Linked DNA regions of Homo sapiens: region 1 is linked to region 2. Evidence: fine-mapped expression QTL. A gene starts in region 2. The other region holds a variant in brackets. All regions are shown on one strand. Distances are between the middles of the regions. Region 1 has its middle 29 kb from the start of GCOM1. Region 2 holds the start of GCOM1 (GCOM1, MYZAP-POLR2M combined locus).

The links.
Region 1: its variant is fine-mapped to the expression of GCOM1 in whole blood (INTERVAL, PIP above 0.99).

What each region holds. Positions count from the first base shown.
Region 1 is chr15:57,554,734-57,570,497 of GRCh38, reverse strand. It overlaps the pseudogene RPS13P7. Among named protein-coding and RNA genes, the nearest start is that of GCOM1, 29 kb to the left of the region's middle. The variant ATTTCT/T (reference allele first, on the strand shown) is at 5,710.
Region 2 is chr15:57,583,334-57,599,097 of GRCh38, reverse strand. GCOM1 (GCOM1, MYZAP-POLR2M combined locus) reads right to left here and starts at 7,194. Exons shown (of 17, transcript NR_104371.3): 1 at 6,989-7,194. It overlaps MYZAP (myocardial zonula adherens protein), which reads right to left and starts at 7,194. Exons shown (of 13, transcript NM_001018100.5): 1 at 6,989-7,194. The coding sequence starts at 7,063. RefSeq lists a silencer at 7,196-7,305.

The sequences.
Region 1 (15,764 bases), 29 kb after region 2:
AGGCCACCACTGGGGGTCTTGGGACACATTTCCCAGGGATAAGTGGGGGCTGGGCACATGCATTGTTGTGGGTGTTTTTCATGCATTGTGCTTGGCACTCTGTGGACCTTTTACATATCTATAGATTCACGTCTTTCAGAAATGGAGAAATTTCTTGAATTGCGTCCTTCTCCCTTCCATATTCTCTGTTCCTAGTCTATGGAACTCCTTGGACTGATCCTCTAATTTTATTATGTTTTCTCTCCTGTTTTTCACCTCATTTATGTTATTACTCAACTTTCTGGATAATTACTTCAATTAACCTCATTTTCTAACCATTAAATTTAGTTTTTCTTTCTGCTCTCAACTTTGAAGTTCCAAGGATCATTTTGGTTCTCTGCTATGCTAACCTCTTGTGCTTGTCTATGTAATCTCTGAAGATGAATCAATCACAGGACTTTGTTGTTGTTGCTATGGTACAGGTTTCTTGCTGCTGCCCAGATTGCTTGTTTCATCCCTAGTTCCTTGTTTTGTTTTGTTTGTTTTTGTTTTTGTTTTTGTCTATGTCTTTGATATTAAGGACTTCTCTCAAATGCCTGATGACCCTTGACTGTTCGCTCATATTTCAGAGTGAGGCACCCAATAGTTGATGGGGTGACATTCATCAACTATAGAATTCACCAGAGGGTAAACCACTGAGCAGTTTCACCAAGGTACTCCCAACCCTCAACATCTTTTAAATTCTATGCCTGAGCTGCCAGACATCTTCCCTAGAAAGGAATCCTCGAGGCTCCTGCTTGGAAGAGATCAACCTGGCTGCCAGTGCTCTTGGAGCTGGGCCTGGGGAGGAGGCCAGTGGTGTCACCACTCAGCACATATACTCACTCAATCCCCCATGTGGCATGGTACCCTGTCCTCAGCTATGCTGCTGCCCAAAGCTGGCAGCTCCAGAGAAGAAATATCTAGTCTTCTAGCAGCAGGAGGGAGAGGATCTAGGGACATTGAAATATTTAATATACAAACTTTCAACAAATCCTATTTTTAGCTCCACCTGTGCCCATTTTCAGAGGACTCTGCCTACTTCAAACTTCACCCCCAACCACATAGGCTGTGCCATTTTCTGGTCTGTTAAATTGACACTTTGCCCTCTCCTTCCGGCTTCCCAGATGCCATTGCTCTTGCTTACTCTCCTATTCTCTTTTATCATTCTTGTATTATCAAGTTAAAAAATCCCTTCAGTGTCATTTTCATGGGGTTTCAGGAAGGAACAGTACTACCCAAGCATGTCAACCTGCCCTGTTTAACCAAAAGTCTAACTATGCCATCTCGCTGAGCTAGTTCATGTCTCAAGGCCTTTTCTTCCTCATCTGGAAAAGGCTGAAAAAAAAATACATACGTTATAGGGCTGTTTTGAGAATAAAATAAAGTAATGCTTGTAAAGCACTATGTATGGTTTCTGGCACATAATATGTGCTCAATACATAATGGCTATTATTCTCAGTTACCAGATCCACTCTAGCATGCAGAGTGGAATTTTTTTTTTCTGCATTGCATGCAAAATGACAGACAATGCAGCAAAAAAAATTCAGATTATACTGAAGTAGAACTTCCAAAATTCATAAAAAATAGACAGTGGAAGTAATTCTTAGTCAAAGATGTCATCTTTCTATAGCCATAAAATTTTAAGACTCTAATGAACAGTCACAGTTTGGGTTAGTTTAGACATAGTCCTCCCTGGGACTAGATGAGATGACCTCTGAAATCACAAAGAAGCAATTCATCTCTGATGAATAAATATCACAGGGAAATGGAGCAATGGTAATAAGCCCATCATTCCCAGGTATTTGAATTGCTTTATTTTCCAGGCTGGTTGCTCATTGGAATATTAGAATTTCCTATGAGTGATATAACACAGCACAGGAAACAGGCAGGTGGACTGTACCAGAAAGTGGTGTCGTATAGTATTGCAAGGATATATTTGCACTGGAGCTGGGAAATTAATTTGAATTTAAACAAGAAATAACCAGCCCTTAGACCACAAGCCTTCATGAACCAGGATTCTGAGCTGCTCAGGCTTAGAAAACACACAGCTCTCCTGGGAGTTGAGTTTTGAAGGGGGTTCACGCACAGAATCTAGTTATCTTTTTTTTTTTTTCAGGGTGAGGTGACACACAATAAAATGTTAACACAGAGAATGCTTGGGAATTTATAAACTTTGGTGAGGAAGAGAGGTAGAAACATGGTTTCTCTAAGGAGCAGTCATGCTTGACATTTTCAGAGGAAACTGGCATACACATTGATGCTAATGTTGGGGGAAACAGTTGTGTGTGATTTATAGATGATGAAAAACATTTGACAAGAATCTTTTGCAAAGGCTATCCTTTTTAAGGAGTCATGGCTGTAAGGAATGTTCTCTCAGGCATAGAGAACGGGTTTACAGATAAGAAAGAACACTCATAAACAGCAACTGCCCTGTGGAAGAACTGTAACCCCAGGGCCTTCTAACTGCTGGGCCTACCATCAATTTTTCGCTTCTTTTAAAAACTTAGCGATTGCATGTTCACTATTTAGGAACACAAACTAGCAAAAAAAAAAAAAAAAAAGGAAAATTTCCTGAAAACCTGCCACCAATCTTAGCTTTTTCACAAACGATCTTTGTATAAGAAGAAAGATGTAGAAAAATCTTCTGGTTTGGACCGGGGGTGGTGGCTCACGCCTGTAATCGCAGCACTTCGGGAGGCTGAGGTGGGCGGATCACGAGGTCAGGAAATCAAGAACATCCTGGCTAACGCGGTGAAACCCTGTCTCTACTAAAAATACAAAAAAAAAACTAGCTGGGCGTGGTGGCAGACGCCTGTAGTCTCAGCTACTCGTGGGGCTGAGGCAGGAGAATGGCGTGAACCCGGGAGGCGGAGCTTGCAGTGAGCTGAGATCGCGCCACTGCACTCCAGCCTGGGCGACAGTGCGAGACTCCGTCTCAAAAAGAAAAGTCTTCTGGCTTGGACACCGTACTAAGTTCCTACAACGATGCCAAGCTTATGGCCTGCACACAGAGGGGGAGTCTTCTAAGACTAGCTTTGAGGGAGCCTCAAAAGCCATTTTGCTCTATCATAGCACCTGACATCTTCATCATTACTGATACATTTATACTAGGGAAATATTAGGACTCAGTGAGTCTCTTTAGGAAAAGCCAGCATCTTATTGGCCATTACACACCTTAGCAGCGGTTACATTGCTATACTAAGGCCAACACCTTGGAAAGCAGAGCATAAGGCTCTGGAGAAAAGGGAAGTAACACGGTGCTTTGCAAATTGCAAAGACCTGTACAAAGGGAATGTTGTTATTATTGGTCCAAAGCAATGGGATTCTGGGTAAAACTGTGATAGAGGCTCTGCACCAAAGACATCAGACTCATAGGTCAGCAATGCCAATAAAACTCGGATATCAGTACGAAAACTGTGGGTCACCAAACAGAGACAATTGTCTAAACAACATGTGCAGTCACGAGACATGCAGGCCTGGTATCCCTGCCAAGAGGGTGAGAGTTGTATGGAAAACTTCCTCTGCACTCTGGAATTGTGCCCTGTGGCTGTGACTGCCTGGCTTTTACAGACTTCATGGTAACTGCAATTAAAAATGCAACAAACCCTCATACATGACAGGTGGGATTGTAAAGTTATATAGTCACTTTGAAAGACAATTTGACAGTTCCTCAAAAGGTTAAACATCAAGGTACGTTATCACCCAGCAATTCCATGCCTGCAATGTACCTAAGAGTATTGAAAACATATGTTCAAACAAAAACTTGTACACAAATGATCACAGCGGCATTCTTCATAATAGCTAAGATGTGGAAACAACACAAATATCCATCAATTGATGGATGAAGAAACAAAATTTATATTTTGTTTGTGTTCTATTTATACAATGGAATACTATTCAGCCTTAAAAAATAATGAAGAGCTGATCCATGCTACAATATAGATGAACCTTGAAAACATTATGCTAAGTGAAAGAAGTCAGACATAAAATGCCACATATGATTCCATTTATATGAAATGTCCATAATAGGCAAATTCATAGAGATAGAAAGTAGATTAGTGGTGGCCAGGAGCTGGGGGATTTGGGTGGGGAGAATGAGAAGCTACAGTGGGTATGGGATTTCTCTTTGGGGTAATGAAAATGTTCTGAAATTAAACAGTGGTGATTGTTACACAACTCTGTGAACGTATTCAAAGCCCATGTATTCTACACTTTAAAAGAGTGAATAATATGGTATGTAAATTATGTTAATAAAGGTTTTTTATTGTTGTTGAGATGGAGTCTTGCTGTCACCAGCCTGGAGTGCAGTGGCATGATCTCAGCTCACTGCAACCTCTGCCTCCCGGGTTCAAACAATTCTCCTGCCTCAGCCTCCTGAGTAGCTGGGATTACAGGTGCGTGCCACCATGCCTGGCTAATTTTTGTATTTTTAGAAGAAACAGGGTTTTGCCATGTTGGTCAGGCTGGTCTCAAACTCTGCCCTCAAGTGATCCACATGCCTAGACCTCCTAAAGTGCTCGGATTACAGGCGTGAGCCACTGTGCCTTGCTGGAAGCTACTACTAAAAGAAAATACCTGAAAACTCAAAGACTTTTTATTCTTTCCTACCCACTGGCCAGAGATCTCTTAGCCTTCCCTCAGTATACTAAAAGTACATGAGTAAATAGTCTGCCAGAAAGGGTGGAATAACCTGGGGACTATTACACCGTACAGTAGCCAATTCCATTTTTCTTTAATAACTGGCAATGAACACTCCCAGGCGTTTTCATTGTTCGTGAAAACTCTGCTTAGAACACAGAACAGAATCAGAGGTACAGGACCAGCCACCGAAGTTACACCTCTGGTTTGGTTGTCTGATTCAGGAAGGAAGAAGGTCAACTCCACAAGCCCCACCCTGGCAGGTGTGCGGAGCACGAGGGGGCCTTCCTGAGAGAGCAAGGAAGTGGGGCGGGAGATATCCCTGCTGACGAAAGAGACAAAACCACATCCAGCCAGGGGCTGCTGTTGCAGTATGGAGTTCCCCTCCGCGATGTGAGCAAACAGAAGAGAGAAAACGCCATCTCATGCCAGGATCCTTTCAAATAGGTCTCTTTCCCAGCCAAGCCTACTTTCTGCAACAGTTTTTCCCTTACATACGAAGCTTCTAGCAAAACACCCAGCATAGAGTGGGAGCTCAGTGAATATTTGTTTCATGAATTAATAGCAACATTTCTTATGATGGCAAACAAAAAATAAATAACTAAAATGTTCTACAATGACCTACTGGGTCATGCACATTTATGGTATGCCCATAACTAGGCAAGTCATTTAATATTTCTATGCATAATTTTTTTTGCTAAAATAGAGTAATAGTACCTATCTCACAGGGTTATTGTGATGATTAAATGAGCTTAGGTATATAAAACAAATAGAATATTGCATAGCATATAAAAATTACAAAACAAATGTTAACTATTAGTATTATTATTCCATGGAATACAGTGCAATTATTAAAACTGTGTTGAAAAAATATATTCTTTTGAAAAAAATTTTTGAGAAAATATCTTTTTATAGCTGAAAAAATTCACAATAATTTAAAAAAATAAGCTATGTAATAGCATAAACAGTAAGATTCCACATTTTGTGAAATAAACATCCATGTAAAGAAAAAAGTGTACACAAATATACATAAAAATATTTATAGTAGTT[ATTTCT/T]AAATAGTGAAAGCAAGGGGGACTTTCTTTATTATTAATTGCTTATCTATTTTTCAACAGTCAGTATAAATTATTTGAGTAAGTATAAAAATTAAAAATCCAATTGAATCAGAAAAGCATTCATATTATTTGACACACTAATTCCAATTTGAGGATACTATTCTTTAAAAAAAGTCCCAAGTACCAAAGAAAATATTGCCTATAAGAATTAGGTAAAGTGCCAGGCGCGGTGGCTCACGCCTGTAATCCCAGCACTTTGGGAGGCCGAGGCAGGCGGATCAGGAGGTCAAGAGATCGAGACCATCCTGGCTAACACGGTGAAACCCCGTCTCTACGAAAAATACAAAAAAATTAGCTGGGCGTGGTGGCGGGCACCTGTATTCCCAGATACTCGGGAGGCTGAGGCAGGAGAATGGCATGAACCCCGGAGGCGGAGCTTGCAGTGATCCGAGATCGCGCCATTGCACTCCAGCCTGGGTGACAGAGCGAGACTCTGTCTCAAAACAAACAAACAAACAAACAAGAATTAGGTAAAGTGTGATGATTTTTCTATAAATTATAGAATAATATATAATGAGTTTAAAAGATTGATGTTCAAAATAGGCGTCAAAAAGCATTAGAGTAACGCTTGAAAATATTAGAAAATGCTATCTATATTAAGTTAACTGGGATACAAATGACTAGTATCTGATCTCAAGCATATAACAAAAGTAATCATTGGCAGAAACAATAGCTGACTCTCTGCCCTTTGTTGAAGTTAACTATATTTGTCACCTTTTGACCAGAACAAGGTGGATTCTTTCTCAACAATTTACAAATTAGCCAGAAACCCCTAAACTTAATAGAACTTCAGTTCTTCCAGGTGGAGGGTTGTCCTGTGACATAAAACTAAAATCATTAAATCTATCCAGTCTAGGAAGAGAAAAGCCCAAGAGGAAATATGCTGTCCATGTATGAAATCATAAACGTTCAGGTAAATATAGCCCTGTTCATTTATCAAAATGTGAGACAAACAAAAGTTATTTTAATTCTATCAGTATTTGTCAGGCACCTGCTACAAACAAAGATGAATAATGAGACAGACTTTGTCCCGGAGAAGCTCACCACCTAATGATGTAGGAAAAAATAACTATAATCAGCTAACCACAGTCCGGAAGCGCTGCAAGAGAACAAAAGACCACAGGAGCCCAGGGAAGGGGGAAGTTTGGATTTGAAGCATCACCTGGGACGTAACCTTGATGCTAAACCTTTACACTAAAGCATGAACATGGTTTTGGTAACCGGCAGACTGAATGGTCAAATTCTAAGCAGGGATGCCGTCCTTCACTGAACCACTGATGGGCACTGGGGGTAGCTGATCACTCTTAGGGCTGTGTCCCTGTGCACTTGCAGAATGTGTCAGCATCTCAAGTTGACAACTTCTTGAGAAGTTGAGGGAATGATGTGGAAGAAGGAAAAGAGCTCAACAGCCCAAATCCAAGAAGCAGATCTTTAAGCGCAATGCAGTGTTTTAAAGCCTGCTATAGGAGTACATGAGAGGGGGACCACACTTAAGCACAGCCCATTTAAAATGCTTTAATTGCCTATCTGTGCAATAAGACTGAACCAAATGAATATTGACAAATCCGCTAACATAATCTAGTCTTGCCTTGCATTTATAAAGGTTAGGACCCAGAATTATAATGTTCTGTTTAATTTCAAATGCCTGCTGTCTGACAGGGGCTTTCTCCCGAGAGAGAAAGGCGTGGTTCTTTCCCTCAAGGGGCTCCCACCCTGGTGTGAAGAGACACACACATCACAATGTCAAAGCCTCGAGGGAGGCACGGGCCTGCCTGGGGATAGCCAGAAGGTCCTGCTCCCACCAGCACCTTCACTTTTAGAGCAAGGAGGGAGTGACCAGCATGGACTAGACAGAGGGGGAGAGGTCAGGAGTTAACTCACAACCAATGTTAAAAATGGACTTAAAGAAGAAAAGGATGTTAGCCTGGAGAAGAAAGAACTTAGAAGGGGCCTAAGAGCCTTTTTGACTATAGAGCCACAATGAGGAAAATGGGGAGAGTGGGTCAGTGCCACACATCCCCAGCAGCAGGCAGAGCAGAGATGATCACATCTAATATCACAATCACTTCTGAAATTCTACAAAAATCCACAAAAGAGAGTACAGGAAGAAACCACACACAGGGCCAACAAAGGATGGGATGAATTCAGGAAGATAGGAGAGTGGGGGATGAACTTCCACCGCTGGGTAATAAGGGAAGCAGGGACGTGAGGACAGACGTTCATGCCTTCCCACAGGAGGCCTTGGAGCTGCCGACAAGGCATCTCCCAGATGACGGAGCAGGCGTGGCAGGACGCCATCTCGCTCAGGGCAGCACCTGGTTAATGTCAGCACCGGGTCTGGTGAGGGCTGGTCTCTGCTGCGACATGGCAGGAAGTGTGCTGTGAGATCTGGTTAGAGGATGTCAAGAGGACCCCCTTGCCACAGCCTAACCAGTGTGTTCTGGACCCCACGTTTCCCTTTCCAAACTCTAATCCATCCTATCATTGCTCAGGGCTTTTTGATTCTGCTCCTTCCTCCCCTCCCCACACACATAGAACCTTTTATTCCAAAATCTAGCAGTACATCATTGGTTAGTAGAAAATAACTCTCAGAGCCGGGCGCGGTGGCTCACGCCTGTAATCCCAGCACTTTGGGAGGCCTAGGTGGGTGGATCACTTGAGATCAGGAGTTCGAGACCAGCCTGACCAACATGGAGAAACCCCGTCTCTACCAAAAAATATAAAATTAGCCAGGCATGGTGTCGCATGCCTCTAATCCCAGCTACTCAGGAGGCTGAGGCAGGAGTATCACTTGAACCTGGCAGGTGGAAGTTGTGGTGAGCCGACATCGCACCATTGCACTCCAGCCTGGGCAACAAGAGTGAAACTCCTTCTAAAAAAAAAAAAAAGGAAGAAAAAGAAAATAACTCTCATAACTTAAAAACAAAAATCAACAAACAAACCCCCCCCTCAAAAAAAAATCCTATAACATAAACTTCCCAACCATCTAAAAACCCAAACTCAAAACGTGTTTCTTTTGTCTTCCCTTCTTGAAGGAAGTAGGTCTGCACGGGCCTCCCCATCTCCTAGAGCTCGTACACAGCTATGAACCTGCTCTCAACAATGACTGGACACTTCCTCTTGGTTCATGGAAAAATTTGCTCGTAATTTTCCAGTCTGACTCAAGCTATCAGCTGGCGATACAGTTTTTTGCCAGCTTTACAGTCATTACATTACTCAAACAGAAACCCTTTTGCAGGTGACCTTGAAAGTTATTAAAAACTATTCTCTTTTTGAAGGAAGGACTTGTTGGGGGCGCCTGGTAGAGAGAGGATGTCTCGACTGGGTCTGGTGGTGACGACATCCTGGAAAAGGAACAAGATCCAAGTCACCAATCATTCTCTTATACAACGCATCCTTGAATTTTGAAGAGCCTGATATTGTGGATGGTTTGTATTGTCATTTGGCAGCAAAAATAACCTACATTGAATACACAGAAATAGTCCTCCACAGCCTCTGCCCGGGCTTTCCAGGTTTGACCACTGTGCAGTGCCTGTGATGCTCTCTGCTGCCACCCAGTGGATATACTGAGAAAGGTCAGGTAGGATGTTTAAACCCAGAGGTTCTCAGTGTGGTCCCCAGACCAGCAGCATTGGCATCAAATTCTTGGCTGCCCTAGAAACTCTGGGAGTGGGGCCAGCAGTCTATGTTTTCACAAGCCCTCAAGGTTATTCTGATGCACACTGAAGTTTGAGAAACACTAGTGTAGACTAGGTAGTAATTTGCACCCAGGGATGTGTGAAATGGATCATCAGATTTCTCCATTGGGAGAAGTCGATTGTCCTTATTGATGATCAAGGATCACATCTTTTATAGGAACTAATTTCACTGGCTATTTTAAAAAAATTACTCGTCTTCTCAGAAATGACAAGAAGGCATAAACCCCAACTCCTCTGTTTTTTATCCAGAATCTCCTGATTATAAGCAGCTACTGCTGCCTTGTTACTAAGAGTGGTATTCAAGGTTCTCCAAAAATATGGATCCAAACGTGTTTTCCAGTCTCACCTCCAGTAATTCTCCACTTCATTTACTCAAGATTTTAATGCAACTGGCTGATCCTCTGAGCCCAGCTTTCATCCCCGTGTTCCCTCTGTTTTTTCCACCAAAGATGCACCCTTCTAGGAGATTAAAATTTCATAATAAACAGTTCTAAATTTTCAAGCCCATTTTAAAGCCCTTTCGAATGCCATTTCCTCTATGAATTCTGCCCTGATTGCTCCATCCAATGACAGCCGTTCCCATCATGAACCTCCGCCACACTTCATCTATACCTCTTTTATAGTGCTTTAAATTCCATCCCTTGTTTTTTTAGTGCTCGGTGGACATTTCTGATCCCGTTGGGTCCAGAACTGAGCCTTACTCATCTCAGCATAAGCCAGTGCAGACTAGGTGCATAGTGACTGCCCTTTGAAAGGTATGCATGAATAACATAGGTCTCTCACAAAATAGCAGTTCACAATAAATGTTGGAATTCAATTTGTTGCAATGCGAATATTGCAACAGTTCACCTAAGAGTAACATAGGAACACCAGATCACCTGGGCAACACTGGGAAGGCAAAGCTTCGTTTTGTCCAAAGTCCTCTTTGGGACTTCACCACTGATGGGTGGGGCCCTGGATTACAGGAGCCACTAATCTACTCCTGTGCCACATTTGGGCCAGAAGCGTCCAACAGCTCCCCCTGCTGTCCACCTCGGCTATTACATCAGGACTGTGAAGGCTTCCATCATCACCCATCAGTCTCTTCTTTAAAGAGCCCACCTGAGATCCCAGAAAACCGCATTTCTGCAGCCACTACTAACACCTGGTTGAAAATGCTGTTCCCCCCATCCCCCCAACAGACCCAGAGCCTTTGGTCCAAATCTCCTGTTGCCATCTCAGGAAGATGAGATCTGGCAATATTTCCCTCCCAGGCCACATCCCCCACTGGCTCCCATCCTCACTACCTTCCCCAATAAGTGTTCATATGTTTAGAGTTTTGACCACTGTGGACCTGTTAGGGAAGAGAGATGCACTGAGCCTGACAATGCAGCTGGGGGTAGGGTGCCCTTTAAAGAGAACCAGAAAAGCAGTGGGAAGCCAGAGGGCGAGGGATCCAGGAGTCCCCGAGAAAAATGTACAAGAAGCAGAAGAAACAAAATAAACTAGAAACAGTGACTGCCTCTGAGTAGAGCCTGGAGAAATGAGCGCCAAGGATGGAAGACTCACTTTTCATTGTTTTACCCTCCTGTACTATCTGCATTTATTTTATGTGCTACTCAAAAACCACACTAGACAATAAATAAAAAATTAAAAAGACTCACAAAACGACAATTTCTAAAAGAAACTTCACTAACAATATAAAAAGACTGCCCTGATGAAAGAAAGATTAGTCTATTATTCGGGAAGAAATGTTAATAATCAAAGCTGAGGGGAGAGAGAAAGGGAGAAACTGCCACATTTGTAATTTCTTGGGTCTGTACAAACTAGTAAACCCTTCTGAAAAGCAACTTGGGAACTGTATTAGTCCGTTCTCACACTGCTACAAAGAACTACCTGAGACTGTGTAATTTATGAAGAAGGAGGTTTAACTGACTCACAGTTCTGCAGGCTGTACAGGAAGCATGACTGGGAAGCCTCAGAAAACTTGCAGTCATGGTGGAAGGCAAAGGTGAAGCAAGCACATCTTCACATGGCAACAGGAGAGAGAAAGAGGGGAGAAGTGCCACACACTTTTAAACCATCAGATCTCGTGAGAATGATCTATCACGAGAACAGCATGGAGGGAATCTGCCCTCATAATCCAGTCGCCTCCCACCAGGTGCCTCCCCCAACATTGAGAATTACAATTCAACATAAAGTTTGGATCACAGAGCCAAACCACATTAGGAACTTTTATAGAGACTTAAAGATGTTGTCTTTCCTCTTCTCTTTCTGGTCATCTAGCCAAAGCAAATTATTTGAAAGATGAAAAAGCTACAGATATAACAGTATTTGATGTAGGAAGGCAGAATTCCAAATCCTACACATTTGTTAATATACAAATAGTATTATAGTTAACTGATGACAGAATTCACTCAATGTGATGTGATTTTTAAGTGTATTTTTAAAAAGCATTTTTAAAAAGTGATCAAGATTATCTAATATCTATAATGTTAAGTGACAAAAAAAGCATATACAAATCATATAAACACTGCAGTTGTACCTATGCTTTAAAAACTGTGTAGGAAAAAAAGACTGGAAAGAAATGAGCCAAAATGCTAATAATGGTTGCATCAGTATGGTGGGGTTATTTTCCAAATTTGTAGTAATACAGTTACCTTATTCTATATAGAAAAATAAATATGTAAAGGAAGTAATGAATCTTTTCAATCTCACCCCCTGCCAAGCAGGAACACACGGGAGGCCTCTTGGCAAGTTGAGGTGTCATACCATTTCAGGACCATCCATCTAGGAAACGCGTACCTAAGAACACCCACCACCATGCATGCCTCTAGTTCCAAAGTGTTCGAAGAGCTACTCCCAGGATGTAAGGATTCCAGCTCCTGGGTTGAACTTAAAAGTTTGCTAAATGTAGTTCATACTCCAATCATAAAGGGTCCAAATGGGATATAGCAAAATGAACAAGGCAACTACCCCAGTTAGCCCAGGGATGTGCGAGCACCCCTCTCACCCATCCAACCATCCAAAGAGGACTGCGAGCACCATGACCCATAGCGACAGCAGCCAGGGAAGAACAATGGTCAATTCCACAACAGAGTTGGGCGTTTCAAGGGATGAATGAGTGTATTAATCAAGGATCCTCAAAGGATAGAACCAGTGGGTGTGTGTGTGTGGAGAGAGAGAGATTTATTATAGGAATCGGCTCATGCAGTTAGAGGCAGAGAAGTCTCATGATTTTCCACCTGCAAGCTGTAATTGAGTCCAAGCCCAAAGGCCTAAGAATGGGGGTGTGGGGGGGCGGGTAGCAGTGATTGCCTAAGTCCCATTCAGAGTCTGAAGGCTGGAGAGCAAGGAGCGCTGATGTCAGAGTGGGAGAAGACGGATGTCTCAGCTTAAGTAGAGAATGAATCCTCTATTCCCCCACCTTTTTGTTCAGTGAGGGCCCTCAGCAGATTGGACAGAGCCTGCTCACAGTGGGGAGGGCCATCTGCTTTACTCGTTCTGCCGATTCAGAGGCTAATCCCTTCTGGAAACACCCTCACAGACATACCCAGAATTCATGTTTTACCAGCTATCTGGGCATCCCTTAGCCCAGTCAAGTTGACATCTAAAATTCACCATCACACAGAAGATGCCACCACCATTCCACAGGGGACAGAGCTGGTGAGACCTTGGTCTTTGTGAGCCTGAAACTAGACATGTGGCCACCCAAGGAAAGCTGAAAATGCCACCCCCAAAACAGGCCAAGAATTCAGTGTTCTTTCCAATCAATATTCTTTAGTATTTATTCTCCATACTGGAAGGACAAGGGGAAACAGTGTTCTGGGGTGAAAATGGAGAACGAAGTCCTCCGGGGCAGTTTTTGGTGTTCCTCTTTTACTGTTTAGGCCTGGTCAGCTCTGGTCCCAAACTTGGACATCCCAGCTCAACCAAACCTCACCCTGACACTACCTGCCTGGGTCCTCTCCTTACAGTGCAGTTCAGTCACTGTGCCATTGATCAGGTCAGCCCTTGGGGTCTTACCACTCCCCGGTGTGGCTACTAAGGTACTGACTTCCTTTAGACTATTTTTTAAACAATGCACCCCTAATTACACTTGAGATATTTTAGAATCTTGGTAGAATTTGAGCACCCTACAATATAGCTCCCAGCCTGGCCTGCCCTGGCTCTGCTCCACAGTGTCCCCCTGCCAGCCTTCCCCGTACCCAAAGACTCTGCTGTCTGGATTCCACTACAGCGACCTTCAGTTTCTAACTGAAGGGGGTGATCTTTTGTTTTAAAAAACTGCAGGGCATTTGTGTGAGCAACCCTCTCACCCATCCGACCATCCAAGGAGGGCTGCGAGCACCATGACCCATAGCAACAGCAGCCAGGGAAGAACAATGGCCAATTCCACATCAGAGTGTCTTGGTTGTTCTTCCAGGTCTTCAAACAACTGCTTTTAAGAAATTTTTGCCCACCTTTTCTAGTTGTTCCCAGAGGAAGAGTTCAGTTTGATACCAGCTACCATGTCATGCCTGAAGCAGAACTCAACTCCTTTTGAAGCGGATGGCATATAAAGCAATCAGTATTTTAAAAACTCAACATTCAACACTTAATTTGCCAAAAAAAATGACCATAAAAAAATAAAAACAGCCTTTCACTGCCTGACTGCCGCCGTCACGGGTCACATTCATGTGCCCGGGAAGGGCCTGTCCCAGTCGGCTTTGCTCTATCACCACAGCGTCCCCACTTGGCTGAAGTTGACATCTGACAATGTGAAGGAGCAGATTTACAAACTGACCAAGAAGGGCCTGACTCCTCCACAAATCGGTGTGATCCTGAGAGACTGACATGGTGCTGCAAAAGTGCGTTTTGTGACAGGCATAAGAATTCTTAAGTCTAAGGGACTTGCTCCTGATCTCCCTGAAGATCTCTACCACTTAATTAAGAAAGCAGTCGCTGTTCAAAAGCATCTTGAGAGGAGCAGAAAAGACAAGGATGCTAAATTCCTTCTGATTCTGATAGAGAGCCGGATTCACCGTCTGGCTCGATATTATAAAACCAAGCGAGTCCTCCCTCCCAGCTGGAAATATGAACCATCTACAGCTTCGCCCTGGTTGCATAAATTTGTCTATGTACTCAAGCAATAAAGTGATTAAAAAGAAAAACAAATGACTAAATAATCTACATCAACATAGGCCTCAAAAAAATGTAATTTTGAATGTAAAAGTCAGAGTACTATATACAAGACGCTGAGATGTATATGACATTTTAAAACACACAAAACATACTACATGGTGTTCATGGATGCATACACGTAAAAATAAAATTGAATAGAATACCCAGCAGATTTGAGAATAGTGGTTGCCTTTGGCAGGGAGTGAGGGACAAAAAGAGAACTTCAATTTTATCTGTAATGTTTATTTAAAAATGTAAAGCAGACAGATATGAACAGCTGTTAACCACTGTTAATTCTTGGTGGTGGAAACATAAACAAACCAAATCCCTCCATTGGAAATGCCCAGAGATCAGATGTCAAGCCTTGTTATCTTGCCTATTTCTTCCTTCCTCTCATTTGCTCCTCCCTAAATGTCCATGTTGCTGTTGTTGGTAGCAGAGTCACTGTGACTAAGTCCACAGCTGGCTTAACATCTGCCCAGCAGGCTCTGGACACAGGCTGGCACTTCTTAGAAAGCACACGCTCCACATGATGACCAGCGCAGGGGTGGAGGAGCGCTATGCTTCCAGCCTGCACCCCTCTGACTCTCTCACAGGGAATAACCAACCCTGGTTATCTGGGGTGCATCTAACCTTTCCACAGGGCCTGGGAAGGCCACGGGACTTTAGTAAGCCCCAAAGCAACTTGCACCTTGATTTTAGAATCCAGCAGCCGTGAAAATACAGACAAAAGAAAAAATTTTGCCATGAAGGGGAGGAGGTAGTAGAGTGAGTTATTCATTCTCTGCTTCAGAAAATGAACTTAGTTTAGAAAACCATCCATGTGTAAGTCAGGAACAAGCACTGCTTAGGAAGGCCAGAGCTTTGGATCCTACCCAGGCTGGAGGAAGCGGCAGGTTGAAAGGAGGCCAGGTCTGTTTTCTAGTTCTTCATTATCTAAATACAAGCAGCAGCTTCCCCAGGAAGAACAGACAGAGACATGAGGGAGCCGGAGCCCCAGAGGGAGCTTGGGCACCCATTTTACAAATCCCTCGCTCTGCAGGGAGTCCTATGCCTGTCTCCAAAGAGCCTCATTATTCATGCCCAACGATAGGCAGGGACGGATGAAAGGCGAGGCAGCCCCAGCCACGGAGAGAAGCGAGCAAACCAA
Region 2 (15,764 bases):
TTGTGAGGATTAAATTAGCTAATGTGTGTAAAGAGCTTAGGACAATTTCTGGCACGCATTAAGCACTCTGTAAACATTCTTTATTATCATGGGAATATAGGAAGAAGAACACTAATCTTAATGGGAGGTGGGAATATATGGGAAAGTCCCTCAGGAAGGACCCTCGGGATACAATTTAAGCTGGGTATAGAAGGACAGAAAGGACTTTACAGGTCAGTGAGGTTTGGAGAACCCACCATCATAACAACAGCAGACAGCTATCAGGCAAGGCGTTCTAGTCTGTGCCAAACACACAGATGTCGGCAAGTTCCAAGAATAAGAACCTGCAGCCTAAGCCTGGGTAGGACAGGCAAATGGACAAACAGATAGGGGCTGAACTATCAATCTACAAATGCATGATAGAGAAGCACTGGCTCTAGTCAGAAGACAATGAGGAGTCATTCAAATCTTTGGAGGAAGAGACTAACATTCAAATCTGAGTTCATTTCAATAATCCAACTGGTCATTTTTCAGTGCCTCCAGTGTTCCATGCACCACACAATGGACGGAAGGGAAAACATAGGGGGAGTGATCAAGTAAGCTTTGTACCGTCACCACTTAATATAGCCCCTACGGTGCTTAGCATAGTATCAACACATGATGGGCGCTCGCTCAGTGTTGGGTTTTGTAGTTTTTTCTAGGTTGAACTAAAACAAAGTAAGAATATACCTGAAACTCCCTGGAGTGCCTTGCACTTTCTTGAAACCAACCCCCCTGGGAAGGATAGCAAGGGAGGGACAGGTAGCATTCAGGTTTCCTCCACAAGAAAAAGCACAACAAAACCCTTTTTGGCAACTCAGGGCCCCTGGGGAGCTACATGGGTCCCCTCAGGCCTTGTTTCTGACCCTTTTGTGGAGATGAGGGCCTGGGTCTCACCTACGGGGTACTCTGCGGATCCAGTAACATCATGCTCTCAACTTCAGGCACCTTGGCTCACCCAGGGGAAAAATATCTATCTCAAATAAAAAGGGAGTGGAGAAGATGATTCAGGGAGGTGACAGGGGTTTGCCAGTTTACAAAGATGGATTTCCCTAAGGAAATTAGCCAAGTGCATTTACATTTCTCTCAGGCCTGTTCCACTTTGTGACTGTGGGTCCCTGCCCAGCTCCCCTTAATGATAAAAGGTGGGGCCCTTGTAAGTGTGGCTAGGGGGAACAGACCCCACACTCTCTGCTCAGCACAAGGATCAAATCCCAGGAGCCTGCAGCAGGCTGCATGCGGAACAGTGTATGCCCCATCTAGATTAGACCTCTTGGCTCTGCTGTGGCCCTGAACTTGCAGCCCAATTATCTACATCAGGGTGGGGCGAACTTTTTCTGTAGAGAGCCAGACAGTAAATATTTAGGTTTTGCAGGCCCCTGTGAAAACCATTCTTAGCTCAGAGGCATACAAAACATTCCTGCTTTCTGTGGCTGTGTTCTGTACTAGGCACACAATGTGCCCCAAACGCCAAGATCCAGAGAGAAAACACAGGTGGATGAAGGCACACAAAGATGCCAGTGTGACTTGGAGTGCGAGGACTCCCCCTCCCTGCCCCATCACCACCCTGCCCTTCATCCCACAAGGCTCAAGGGACCTTTCTGCAACACTGTCCCAGGAGTGTCTGCATTTCCAAGAAAGCTATAGAAGGGAGTAATGCTTAAAGAAATATTGTTAGCCTTGCTGCACATTAGAATCGCCTGGGAAGCTTCCTAAAAAATACTCATGCTTTTCTGTACTTTAAGATGTTCCCATTTAATTGGTTTGGGATGAGGCCTCGACATGGCTATTTTAAGCCTCCCAGTGATTCTGTGTATAACTGGTTGAGAACCACTGACTGAACCAAAGGGATGAAGCTCCAACTGTGCAGCAGGATGAGGCAACTCGAATATTTGGAGGACTTCCCAGAACTGTCAACCTCCTCACCTGGGCCAGCATTCCCATGTATTTGTCACCCGTTTCCTGCCCAGGTGGGTCAGAAGTGATGGGATGGATTTAACCCAAGGCTTCTCTTCCTGTTTTTCCATTTGCCAATTCAATGTTAACTGTGGCTCCTCTACGTAGGACCTGGTGAGATTTCTGTTTTTAACTGCCTATTCCACCAGGCCTGGGGAGGGGTGGTTCCTAAGCCCTGTCTTCCAGTAGGTAATCACAGGTGACGCAAGTAATGGTGGCATGCACAGGCCTCTAGGGGAACACGAGAAGGAGGGTTGAGGTTTCAGGGCAGGCTTCCTAGAGGAGACAACACTCATCAGAGGAGAAACATGAAGAAAAGCAAAGAGGCAAGGAACGGCATCGAAAGCTCGGGGAAATGGCAAACGATTTGGAATATCTGAGAAGACCACATATAGGGAGGGGAAACAGCACAGGCACGGGCCAAACCAGAGGGCCTGGATGCTACACTAAGGAGTGTGAACTTTTTCCTGGCAGTACTGAGGAGGCTCTTGAAGCAGACGAGTCAGGAGACTAGATTTAGCATTTTAGAAAGATCACCCCGGCCTTTAAGAGTGAAAAAGAGCCAGGAGTGTGGTTGACACTTAGGAACTATCACTCACCAAAGAGGGAAAGAGGTAAACACCACTGTATTGCTCTTCTGTGTGCTGGAGAAGTACTGGAATTCCGTAAGACCATAAGGCATGATGAGTGCTGAGAAGTATCTTGGGTTGAAATATTTAACATGGTCTCTAGTTAGTCAGCCCTGGGCCCACAGCTCCTTGAACTCAATTAGACAAGAACATTTGAGGCTAATTGACTTCAAAGCCTTCCCCAGTGACCAGGGCTTAGTGACACCAGCCTCCAGGTCTCTTGTTCAGATATGGATGCACAGCATAGGTAAACTACAACAGGGACCTCATACGCAGCACTCCATCAGTGCCCCCAGAGACAAATGGGTCAAAATCACATTCCATATCCTTTGTAGAAAAGCCATGGGATCTCCATAAATGTCTAGGGGAAATCAAGTTTCCTTACGAGTCTCCAGAATTCAGGTCTGTTCATCCTCTATCAAACAAGGCAATGTGAAAGATCAAAAGCATAGAGCTGGGCACCTCTTTTTCTGAGCCTACAACCATCATTTTTGACCGGCACAGGTTTAAGCCCTGCCCTTAGCCCAGAGGACGCCTTGGTTCCAAACCCTCACAACTTAGCCCAGTCAGGCAGCAATGGGACATGGGAGAGGGACACATTAGCCAAGGAACAATGACTAGCAGGCCCATTCCAGTGTTTAACAGAGGAAGCCTTTGCCAAATAGAAAGAAATATCAGCAAGGGCAGGCTAGGAGATAGTCCTATCCTGTGACCTTGTTGGGTTTTGTTTTTTCTCTGTGCCAGTGACGGGTCACGATAGCAGCAACACCAGCCAACAGTCTTTTATTATCAAGAGAGCAAGGTGCTGGAGAAGATCCTTGACAGATCTATCATTCCACAGCCCAGGATCAGAACAGCTTAGCCAAAAATACTCGGCAGTAAGTATTGTGCCGAAAGGTCAGTTGTGTGACCCGGTTGTGTGCTTTGTGGGGAAGCCATAAAGCAACACATGCCTTCCCCGCAAAGCACACGACCCAGCCACACAACCAACCTTCCATTTCAAAGGCCCATTTAGCAAGACTAACTGGCATTTATAAAATTCCTTTCAAAAGCATGAAGCAAGGTCAATATTTTTAAAATCGTTTCCCCCCATTCCCCAAGGTCATCTTCTGGCTGTGGTTATTCTCCAGTCAATTTGTCTTCCTGCTGTTGCCATAGATAAAACTATTTTTAGTGCACAACTGGTTTGAAGGAAGTTTTTTTAATTTCACAACTTCTGCTGGTTGGCATCCATAAATGCCTTTCAGAGCTTTGTTTATCAGCTGACAGAAATTACTCTCTCCACCTGTTGGTTTTTTTTTCCTTGAGAGGTGATTTCAGATAAGAAGGAAATACAAATTGCAGGTGGCAGCCATTGAACAAAGGCTAACTGGTGGCAGTCCAGCCAGCCACATAACCCTTGGCAGCTGGCTCGCAGGAGTCCCTGCTCAGTGTCAGCTGTCACCACCACTTCTGGTTGGCTTGAATATCTGGACCCACATAGGCTGGTTTCCCCTGCAGTACCCAATTTGATGAGCTCTTTGGATGAACCAGAAATACAATTTTAATGGATAACATGTTCAAGACCATCACTTGTCCATCATCAGAGAGGAATAACAGAACAATACAGTATTTGCTGAACAACTTTCAATGAAAGGTACACTTCCAATGATTATTTGGTCTACAATTTTACTTTCAGGACATCCCGTTCCTGCTTTTCTAAACAATAGGTATTTTGTCCCAAAGCAGGTCCAATTTGCCATCATGATAAAGTAGTCATGTGTCACTTAACCGTGGAGATGCACTCTGAGAAATGCATCATTTGATGATTTTTGTCGTTGCGTAATCATCATAGAGTGCACTTACACAAACCTAGATGGTATAGCCTACCACACACCTAGGCGATATGAGATAGCCTACCATTCCAACCACCGTCATATATCCTGGCTACTGTTGACCAAAATGTGGTTATGCAGTACATGATTATATATGCCAAGTATTCCATTGAGATGGTTATTTCCTCCTTTCAGTATCCCAATAATGTCAATTCCCCTACAAATTCTACTCATCCTGCAAGATTAAACTCAAACATCACCAGTAGGCGGGGCTGGGTGGCTCATGCCTATAATCCCAGCACTTTGGGAGGCCGAGGCAGTTGTATCACTTGAGGTCAGGAGTTCAAGACCAGGCTGGCCAAGATGACAAAACCCTGTCTCCACTAAAAATACAAAAATTAGCCAAGCATGGTGGTGTGCGCCTGTAGTCCCAGCTACTCGGAAGGCTGAGGCAGGAGGACTGCTTGAACCTGGGAGGTGGAGGCTGCAGTGAGCCGAGATCGTGCCATGGCACTCCAGCCTGGATGACAAAGTGAGACTCCATCTCAAAAAAACATACCTTTAGTGAGAGGCCTTCCCCTGATGCCTCAGGAAGAACCTTTATTTTAGCTTCTACAGAACTTTGTAAACTCTTCACCCCACTATAACCATCACCACTTTGTTTGATGTTAGTTTGGGAAAATGTCTGCCTCTACAGGTAGGGCGGACCCCAATGCCAGCCCTTTACCACACAGAGAAAGGTTTATGAATGTTCAATAAATCAATTAATCAACATCTCACAGCTTCCCACCACACACACAATCCCCAGCACACACACAGATAGTACTTGTAACATCTGCAAATCATGAGCAGAGCTAGAAACCATAAAGATGGGCAGAACCCTAGACCCTTTAGATACCTTCCTTCCAGAAACAAGTACCAGTGTACCCAGGACAGCCCTGAATGGCCTGATCCCGAGCCCTGAGTTCTCCAGTCCAAAATACGTCTGCCATCTTATTCAAAAGGCAAAGTCTTTTCAAGAGTGTCACAATGTGTCCGACAGCAAAGCACCTATAATTAAATAAATATTCCAAAGGAAACGTTTGACCCAAAATCTTCAGAAATGTTATTTGTATACTAGTCACATTTGTATCAACCCACCGTATTAGGTTAGGTACCCCAACTAATCCCCACCTCTGGAAGGGAAGTTACAGAGAATTTCATGCAATTCATGCAGTCTGGTCACACATATGATCCTCTCAGGGCTCAGGGTTAGCTTTTCAGTGACTTCATTCTTTCTCAGTTGCAATTGTGTTCAAATTGAGAAAGATTTCCATAGAAAAATACAAACACCCAACTTAGAGTAAGGCCAGGACTGTGGTTGGAAACCCCCTTGGACCCAATGTAGATCTTACTCTATGATGCTAATGATTGGACAACTGGAGTTCTGTCAACCTTGGGCATGAGCCAACTGATGGATTCTGGGGTGTGTGTGTGTGTGTGTGTGTGTGTGCGCCTGTGTACACAACCTAAGTGTCTGGTGAGTGCACGCACACACACACCCCAGAATCCATCAGTTGGCCCATGCCCAAGAGTAACACACCTTTCTTCTAGAGCTAAGAAAGACAGCTTATAAGGTGACCACCATCACTCGCTTAAGGCATGTAAAAGCAAATAAGCAGGTCCAAGCCTGCACGCAGACAGAACCAGTGGGGGTTTTGCTTTGGACTTAACCACCTGTTTAAATCTTGAGGAAACACGATTACAGAAGTCTCAATCAGAGCAAAGAGGTACCAAATGATAAGTATTGAACATCATGATAAATGGAAGAACTAAAAAGCCACAAGCCAAGCCCCTGGCTGTGGCTCTAAGGTGCTGACCGTGTTAGAAAGATGGAGCATTTCTTTTACAGAGCATCTGGAGAGATGGGAAAAGATGCCACAAAGATCAAAAAGAAACAGCACTTCCAAAGGGAAACCTTCCCTGGAGATGCTGTCCCAAGCTTTCAGTGCTGCCATTGTTGTCACTGTGCTAATATTTAAATCAGACAGAAGAAAGTGGTTTACATAAACCGGAGTCCCACACAGTCGGGCTCCTGGGCGGCCGGCTGCTGTTCTGGTTTGCCCACCTTGGCTAACCCCACTCCAGAATTACCCTATCACTAGTGGATACCCTATCACTAGTGGACACAAGTGACCCCATCTTTCTTTTAATTAATGGAAGAAGGAAAGTTTGAGTTTTAAATACATTCATTACTTTTGAGTCTCAAGGTAGGGACACTGCACAAATGTCTTCCTTCATTTTTAAACTGGTGCCGCCAATAAACTCGGCTTGACAGAAAGGCAGGAAGGAGAGGAAATCTCTGGGAATTCCATAAAGTCCCCTAAGCCCTCTCCTACCAGCTGGTGGGCCCCCTGAAACCTCAAGCGGGAGGGTCACTGCCAGAGCCGGCACAGGACCGGGGAGTTGAGCCCAGGGTGGGGCGTCGGGGCCAGGTGCTGGCTCCCGAGCTTTCCCATCCCTAGTCCCCTCTAGAGGGGGCGGCCGGGATGGGGGAACGGGACGGCGGCGGCTCCCGCCCCCGCTACTCACCCTCCTGCTGGGCGCCCCGGGCGTCCTGGCGGCGCCGCCCGAGAGCAGGGTGACCGTGGACGTGGAGCGCAGCATCCCGCAGCGGCGGTCGGTAGCGGGCTGGACGCCGGCGTTCCTCCCGGGCAGAATAAGCGTGCGGGGCCCGCCCTGCGCGGGGGCGACGCGGGACGGCGCCGGCTACTTGCAGCCTCAGCTGCACCGCGAAGGCCCGGGGGTGGGGCCGGGGGCGGGGCCGGGCCGGGCCGGGGCGGGGCCGAGCGCGCTCACCCGACCCGTCAGGCTGCATTTTCTCCCGAGGGCGCCGACCCGGTTAAAGTTGAGCACCATCCTCTCCCAGGGCGCTGCGCCCTCCCAGGGTCAGTCCCAGGGCAAGAAGGAGCCCTGGACAGCCTGGACGCCCATGCTCTCTCTGTCCCCCGCAGAGTTGAGATCCACCTGCCCATTCAGTCTCACGACCTACCCCCACCCCGGACTGCCCCCTACAGCCTCTGCACGCCCTCGTATCACTGGGACCCTCACCCCATGTCATTCATTCAGTATTTCCTGAATGCCTATTATGCGTCCCCACCAGCAGCCAACCCAGTCGACTGGCTGTTGGCCTCGGAGAGTTTGCAGTGTGGTGGGGATGACAGGTGCCGGGCTGTGGTAGAAGAGGAGATACCATGTACTAAGGGAGCACACAGCCAACCTCAGAGGAGGTGATGACTAAGCTAAGACCTGAAATGCAAGTAGGAGTGGGCCACACTGCCCATATTTATTCAATGATTACTGTGGGCCTGCCTGGCGAGCACTTTGCGTGTGTTACCTCATTTAATCCTCACCATTGCCCTTTGAGGGAGTCACTGTTGTTACCTTGTATCCCCATTTTGCAGATGAAGACGCTGACTCACCTAGGGATTGAGCAACACAGCAGGCGACCCACTGGCCTCTCAGTGGCAAAGGTAGGATATGAATCCCCCAGTCCGACCCTAGTGCCTTGCTTGTCCCCTCTGCTGTCCCCTAACAGAGGGAGGAGGGAGTCCCAGGTCAAAAGAACTAGCATGCACAAAGATGGAAGGAAAGCAAGGGAAGGTATAAAATATGTTTCAAGAATTGGAAGTATCACAGTGCAGTGGGAAAACAGTGGAGAAGCAGCGGAAGGGAGCTGAGGACATCATGAGGAACCTGTGTGCTTAGCTGGAAATTTGGCCTTTATCTTGAGGACAAAGTGTTTTTCAGCAGGGAAAGACACAATCTCTGTCTTCAAAGCCCAGGTCAAGCACTGCCTCCCCACGGAGCTCTCCAGAAACCCCTTCCCCAAACACGCATGCTCAGGAACTTAGCAGCTCCGCGGGACCCTGTCTTCTGTTAGAGTTATCTATGTGTGTGCCTGTACCCTGTCCTTCTGGAGGGCAGAGGCCAGGCCTTGACCCTCTCTGAATGCCCAATGGCACCAACAGGGAAGATGCTGAAAAAAAAATGTTGCTAAACAGAATTACAGATGATCCTGTGGAACTCACTCCTTTTGTAGATGAGGAAACTGAGGCCGGTGTATACAAGTGACTTTCCCAAAGTTGCACAGCCTGTTCTTCACCATCCTCATCGTCATCCTCACAGTAGCTGTGCTTGTGTCCTAAGTGCTTTATATGCATTTTCTCAACCAATTCTCACAATGCCCCACAAGGTGGGCTACAGTTATCGCCCCTGTTTTGCAAATGAGGAAACTGAGGCCAGAGACATTAGGTTAATTGGTGAACAGCTGAGACTACACATCTAGTCTTCTAACCCAAGTCCTTCTGCTTTTCTGCTACACTCCTCTCTGCATCCTCCCATCCACCTATCCCTTCCAAAAAGAAAATTGTTCATGACAGGTTCCTTCCCATTCCACTTCCACGAAGCCCTCTAATCTACCCAAGTCTTTTTCATATTGTTAACATCCTATTCACACGGTGTTATATTTCTTTACAAAAGCAGCAGACAGCTCACTAGCTTGTGAGCTCTGTGTAGAAGCTGGATCTTGTTTACATCTCTGCCTGTCCAATATCTAGAGCAGGTAATTGACGTGTGGTAGTGCAAGTAAATGTGGAAAGAATGAAGAAATGTTATTACAGAGTAAGATTTCAACTCACTCATGGTCATGAAAAACAGAAACTAAGATCCTTGCCAACCCAGCTCCTAGGGTGGGCCAGGGACTCCAAGCAATTTGGCAGCTGAAGCAACAAGAGCCCCAGGGTTGTCCCAGCCAGGCCATTTCCCCAAAGCTGGCTGACAATCGCCAAGGGCTGTGGGTGGTGTGTCCAGGCAGATGCCAGGCCCTGGCTTATGCCACAGCTCCTCCCTAATAGGCCAGCACTAGGAATCTGAGGTCATAAGGAACTGCAAGAGAGAGGAGAGTGGGGAGCCCAGAAAGTGGGAAAGAAGGAAAATGGGAAGACAAGTAGGACTGAAATCAATGGAAAAGTGGATCTAGAGTGGAGAGGAAAAAGTAAAAAATGAAGTCACAGTCACTGGTTTCCATTAATATTTCTGAGAGAAGATGATTTTTAAAAAAAGATGGACTCTTTTCAAAAGAGGAATCAAAAGCTGAGAACTTCTGCCCAGTCAGCAGTCCTCTGGAGTCTACAGAACTGAGAGTGGGGAAGAGGGCCAATGGGAGGGGAACAGGGATAAGGGTCTGGTGTAGAAGTTCTCCACATTCCCTTGCAACATGACTCATCTACTCCAGACCCTCTGAGCATTGGTGATGAAGGGGTTGCTAGTGTTTGGGCTGGAGAGAACGGGAGCTATGACAAAACTGTCTTAGCTGTCATCCTTTTCTATCCACAGAAATAGCCACATAGGCCTAAGAGCAGTCCTGAATTTCTCTGCTAAAGCACAGGTGTGTAGAAAATTCCAGATGTCTGTATAAGCACCCTTCATTTTCTTGTAATCAGTTACTGAATTTTACCTCCTTCTCCCATCCCAGTTCCTAGAATTATCTTTCATATCCTCTAGGTCTCTGCTTCTGAATTGTCTTTGTTGCTTTCTGCTAAACTCTTTCCAAATTCCATTGGCATCTTTAGTTGAGAGGCTTATGATAGGACCCTTTTCTCCAGCAAAGTCCTGAGCAGCAATGACTCATTATTTCTTGCACAAATGATCAAGAGTTAAATCACTGGACAAGAGCACACAGTAGATGAACCCAAGCAATTCTGGCCCTCCTGATATTTCATGCCCTCTTCACTCTTATATCTCTGAAGCTTCTCTTTCTTTCTCTCCCATTCAGCTGCGACAGCATCCCGAAGTCCTGGCATATTCTCCCATTCTGCATGCCAAACAGACCAAACTTTCACAATAGAAAAAGGACACATTTCCAACCAAGGACAAGGGTAATACATTACAAAGCCCCTTTGGATAAAGTAGAACAAGAAACACCCCATATTCACAGGTTGTCCGAGAAACAGGGAATGGGGCCTAGAGATAAGAAAGGCAGGCTGAAAGGAACCCAAAACCCCAGCCAAGTCATCCAGATACACAGCAGTTATAGGCCTGTCTAGACACAAGGGCTGGAACCACTTGCTGATCCACCCTGGGGAATACAAGCTCATTGGAAATCATTCTGTTGTCTCGCCAGTTAACCCAGTGAACCAACAGGCAACTGGCAGAGTAATAATAAGCCAATTCATGGAACAAATATGTACCAAGCACCTACTGTGTACTGAGCACTGGGGACTGAGGTGAGTAAGACAGCCCCTGTCTTCTAGGAGTTCACAATCAAACCAGGAAGAGAGATGTGCACTTAGCAAATAAAATGACAGCTAACACTTTTATATGGCACTTACTGAGTTCACAAAGCTTAAAATGCATCAACACATTTAACTGTCGCAGCAACTCAGTGAGGAAAGTAGTATTATGTCCCTTACTTTGCAGATGAGAAAATGGAGCGGCAGGGAGGTTAAGTAACTTGCCCTTGGTTCCAGCACTAGTAAGTGGTTAAGCTAAGCTTCAACCCCAGGCAAGATGGCTCCAACATCTGCATACTTGACAATTCACCTCCTCTACTGGGATAGGGGCCAGATTTGAGGTGTGTCCAGAGCACTTATGGTAGGCAGGAGGGAAGCTGCTTGGGCAGAGAACAGTGAAGGCTTCCCTGGGAAGGTGGCATAGGAGTTGTTGGACACGAAGAATGAGGAGGAAAAGGTAAGCGCATTCCAGACAGAGGAGCTGGAAGAAATAGTGGGTCGGGGGATGTGGGAAATGCATGTTAGCCAGTTCTGCTTGAACTTCAGGGCAGGAGGGAATGGCCAGAGACAAGTAGGGTGGGGTTAGATTGCAAATGGACTTGAATAAAATTGAGACTTAATAGCAGATTATGAGCTCTTAAAGTTTTGCAATTAGTGCAGTGATATGATCAGATTTGTATGAAGAAAGATGGCAGGCAGCAAAGAAAGGAGTAAGGATGGCAGACAGAGCCTGGAAGGCAAGTACTTTGGAGTGCACTGGAAGTGTGGCCATGACGTAAAGAGGCTCTGCACTAGGGCAGTCGGTGGCAGTGGAATAGAAAGGAGGGGATGGATTCAAAAGGCAGAAAATCCACAGAACTTCATGACCAACCAAAAGCTGGAGGATTTTTGTAGGCCACCCCAGTGAATAGTCGACAAATACCTCTACAGATCCTGAGGGATGGGGAATCAGCTAAGAAAATGAATGAAATAAAGGATGAGTGATTTCTTTCTCAGCCTTGGGACTTCACCCAAGTCTGAGATTAAACACAGTGAGACAAACCTCAAAACCTAGAAGAAGGCAGCACTCTTACTTTTCCAAGTAGCTACTACTGTGAGCTTGGAGAAAACATGTTGATACAAAGGCAGAAACCTTACGTATTTCTTTTCTCAGGAAGATACTCTGATGACTGTCTTTAAGAGGAAGTAGACTCCACCCAATGTCAAAAAAACAGTAATAACAAAAAGGAAGGAATCAGTCAGATGAGACACGTGAAAAGAATTAGGGGCCTTCCTGAGAAGCACGGGGCAAGAAGCATCTCTTTTTGTAGCCCATGTACTTCCTTGAGTAATTTACCCCAAAAGTTAGTGACCGGTCAGTAATTGTCATTTGGACAAATTAAAATATGAGTAGTAACTGTATTTAAATCTATACCAAAAAAAAAATAGACAATCTATAAAAGGGAAATTCTTTTTTGCTCTTTTTTTTAAAAATAAAAAGTCCTGAAATGCTTTGTGTGCGTATTCAAGCAGAACATCTGATATGTCTATTTATGCAATGACTGTCATTTTAGGTCACCCTCTCCCGGAAGTAGATTCTGAGCCAAGGACTCCTATGTAGGTGATCATTAGGGAGGTGCTCCCAGGAGAAACCAGGAAGGGAGTGGGAGACCCAGGGAGGGGAAGAAACAAGCAAGGATGCAACCTTAGGTAAAGTTTCAAATTCAGCCTGATCCATGGGCAGCTCTGAAGTATAAATTGCACCTCACAGCTACTTCTGCCTCAAGACAAAAGAACTAGGGCATTTGTACTCTATACTAGTCAGTCACTGGCTAAAGGTTACCTGGGTATGGGGATGGAGGGTGGGGAATGTACATGAACTCTCCGGCATTTGCAGCACTCCACAGGGGCAAGGAACCTGAATATCCTTGGAAAATCCTCTGAAAGTCACAGGCACAGACCATTAGCATCCAAGGATGCAAAAGCTAGGGAATGGACACACAGAGCAGGTGAAATGTGGCTGAGGAGATATGCATGGGTATCAACTGTGTCCACTATAGCTATATATTATTTCTGTAAACAAATCAAGATATAAAGGTAGATACTGGCCAAGTGCAGTGGTTCACGTGTAATCCCAGCACTTTGAGGGGTTGAGGCTGGTTAATTACTTGAGCCCAGGAGTTCAAACCAGCCTGGGCAACATAGTGAGACCTCTGTTTCTACAAAAAATAAAAAAATTAGTCTTGCATGGTGACAGGCACCCGTGGTCCCAGCTACTCAGGAGGCTAAGGTGGGAGGATTGCTTGAGCCCAGGAGGTTGAGGCTGCAGTGAGCCATTATTATGACATGGCACTCCAGCCTGGGCAACAGAGTTAGGCCCTGTCTCAATAAATAAATAAATGTAGATACCAGTGGGTATGTAATATGTCACCGCTTAGAGTAAAATCTCTGGGACAATGATAACAATAAACCACTGAATGGCCCACAGAGTCTGGTACAAAACAATGTGGATACAGACAAAGAATCAGGGGAGAGAACACTCATCTACTGATGGAAGAGATAGGATCCAAAAAACAAATAGGCTGGAGCCAGGAGCAGAATCTGACAAGATGAAATCTGGCGGGAATAAATTTGTGATCCTAACCTTGAGTCCAAGGTCAAGAAGAGCACAAGACAGGACTTGGCAGACCCGGCTCAGCAGCAGCATGTGCTACAGATGCCTATGGAACTCAGCATGGCCAGTAGCTCCACAGAAGCCCACCCTTCTGTGCCCTAGAAAATCTCATCTGATTTCATATGGGATTCAGAGGAAGGCAGCTACTCTGTGGTGCTGGCCGAAGCATGCCAGAATGTGGCCTTCAGGTCTGGGTGCTGTGGTTTGAAGGAAAAGGGAACACCCAAATGATTTCAGAAGAACATGACCCAGAGAGTATAAGAATGATGGGAGATGCAAGTGATAGAACTGGGAATATTGTCCCTAGAGAAGAAAAGGCTGGCAGACATGTTAAATGACTTCCCTTCTTGAATGTCACTCACTGTGGCAGAGAGATTAGACCTTCTGTGTAACCCAAAGTGTAGGACAGGGGCCAGTAAGCAAAAGCTGCAGAGAGATGGAGTTCAACCACAATGTGAGGAACAACTTTAATAGCCAGAGCTAGCCAAGGGAAGGGATAAAGGAAAGAAATTGGGAAGGGTGGAAATGATGGGCAGGGATACCTCACACATAGGCAGGGAATTCCCTATCCCTGGAATGTGGCTCTGCCAGTGGTCACCAAGCCAGACTGCACACCAAAGCTGCCTGGGGACTCGCTAACACTGCACCCTGGGTCCCAACCCACAGTCATTCTGATTTCATGGATCTGGGATGACACCCAGGAAGCTATATTCTAATAAGCTCCCCAATTTTTTTATTATGCCATCATCCAGCATTTGTACTGGGCCCAGGTCTGAGACTGCTGGTGAAGACAACTCATCAAGGATGACTAGAAAGGACTCAAGCTCATGTGGGGAAAGGGGCATAGAGTAGATATATTTATTCCCTTCAAATTCCAGAGGTCTGGGGCCTTGGGATTGTGGGATTCTAGCTGTCAAATCAGAGGAGTCCGTCTGAAGAACACTGTTTAATAGACAGCATGGGCTTTGGAGCTAAACTAACACGCATTTACATTCAGGCTGAGGAGTCTTGGGCAAGTCATTTTCATTCTCCAAGTCTGAATCTTCTCACTTGTGAAATGGGGGATAACAGCAGCACCTCCTAGGGTTGTTGTGAGGCTTGAAGGAGATCATAAAATATAAACTATATGACTCTAGTAAGTCATAGCCCTCAACAAAACTGAAGACCCTTCTAAAGAAAACTAGGAATTGCCTGCTCATTTTTTTGGTAATGCTGAGTATGAAAGATGACAGAATACTTTTTTAAGTCTGGAACAATTTCTTCAAAGCAAAAATATTGAGTGTTCCATGCCAGTGTTAATATAAGACATTTAGAAAAGAATAAAGCCCTTCTTTTCCTCTATTTGATTTGCTTTAAGACAGATTAATATAGACAACCAATCTATTCTTAGCATGTAAGAAGAGAATCATAAAACTTTGAAACAGAACAGTATTTATTTTTTAATCCTAAGAAGAACGATAGTACTCCCTAACATTATTTTTCTGCCTTTAGGCCTCCAATGAACTCATGTAAACAGGTTTCCATTATAGCTCCTGTGACAAGTATAAACTTTACCATAAAACATAGAATATGAACCATTTTCCTCTAAGTTCAATTTACTCTGTCCTAAGTTGCTATCTGGCCCCACTCCAGCTGACAGGGGTCTTTCTGATATGCCAGTAGTGGCTTCAGGCAGGGTTTCTGCTTGTGGCTGTGAAGGTTGTTCACAACACAAAGACTTCTGGCTAAAAGAACTAATGTTCCACCTGACAAACTGTGCCACTGACACCGTCCCTAAAAACTCCATAAAACTAATCCGGGAAGAAGGGAGGGGAAGAAATGTAAATGAGCCAAGCTTGCAGCACACTCAGCATCCATCATAAGAGCAGCTCGCTGTCTGACCTGCTTCCTCATGGTTGTTTGGTGCCTATGGCCTCAAAGTCATGTAGATCCTGGTCCAAGATTATAGTTCCACCTCACTGCTCTCTAGATAACAACATGAGTATTATCAAACCTCAAGTTTTCCATTTGAGATATTCTTCAGGTCCTGCATACCAGTGAAACTATGGACATCAGCTGCTCTGAAGGACCCCATGAAAGTGGACTCACCAAAGAATGTAGTTTCCATGTCCTGATGATTTCATCTCCTTTACCCCAACCAATCAATGACCCCAATTTTCCAGCCACTCGCCCTCCATGATCCCCTTAAAAGCCCCAGCCCAGAACTCCTCAGAGAGGTGGATTTGAGGGTCTCTTCCTATCTCCTCACTCAGCATTGTGATGATTAAACTTTTTCTCTGTTGCAAACCCTGCTGTCTCAGCATATTTGTCTGTTACTCCACAGCAGGTATATGAACCTGCTGGTCCTGTAATACCCCCAGCTTGGGGCTATGCTCACTAGAGAAAGGGATGCCATTTCTAATTCACACAAAATCATAGGGGC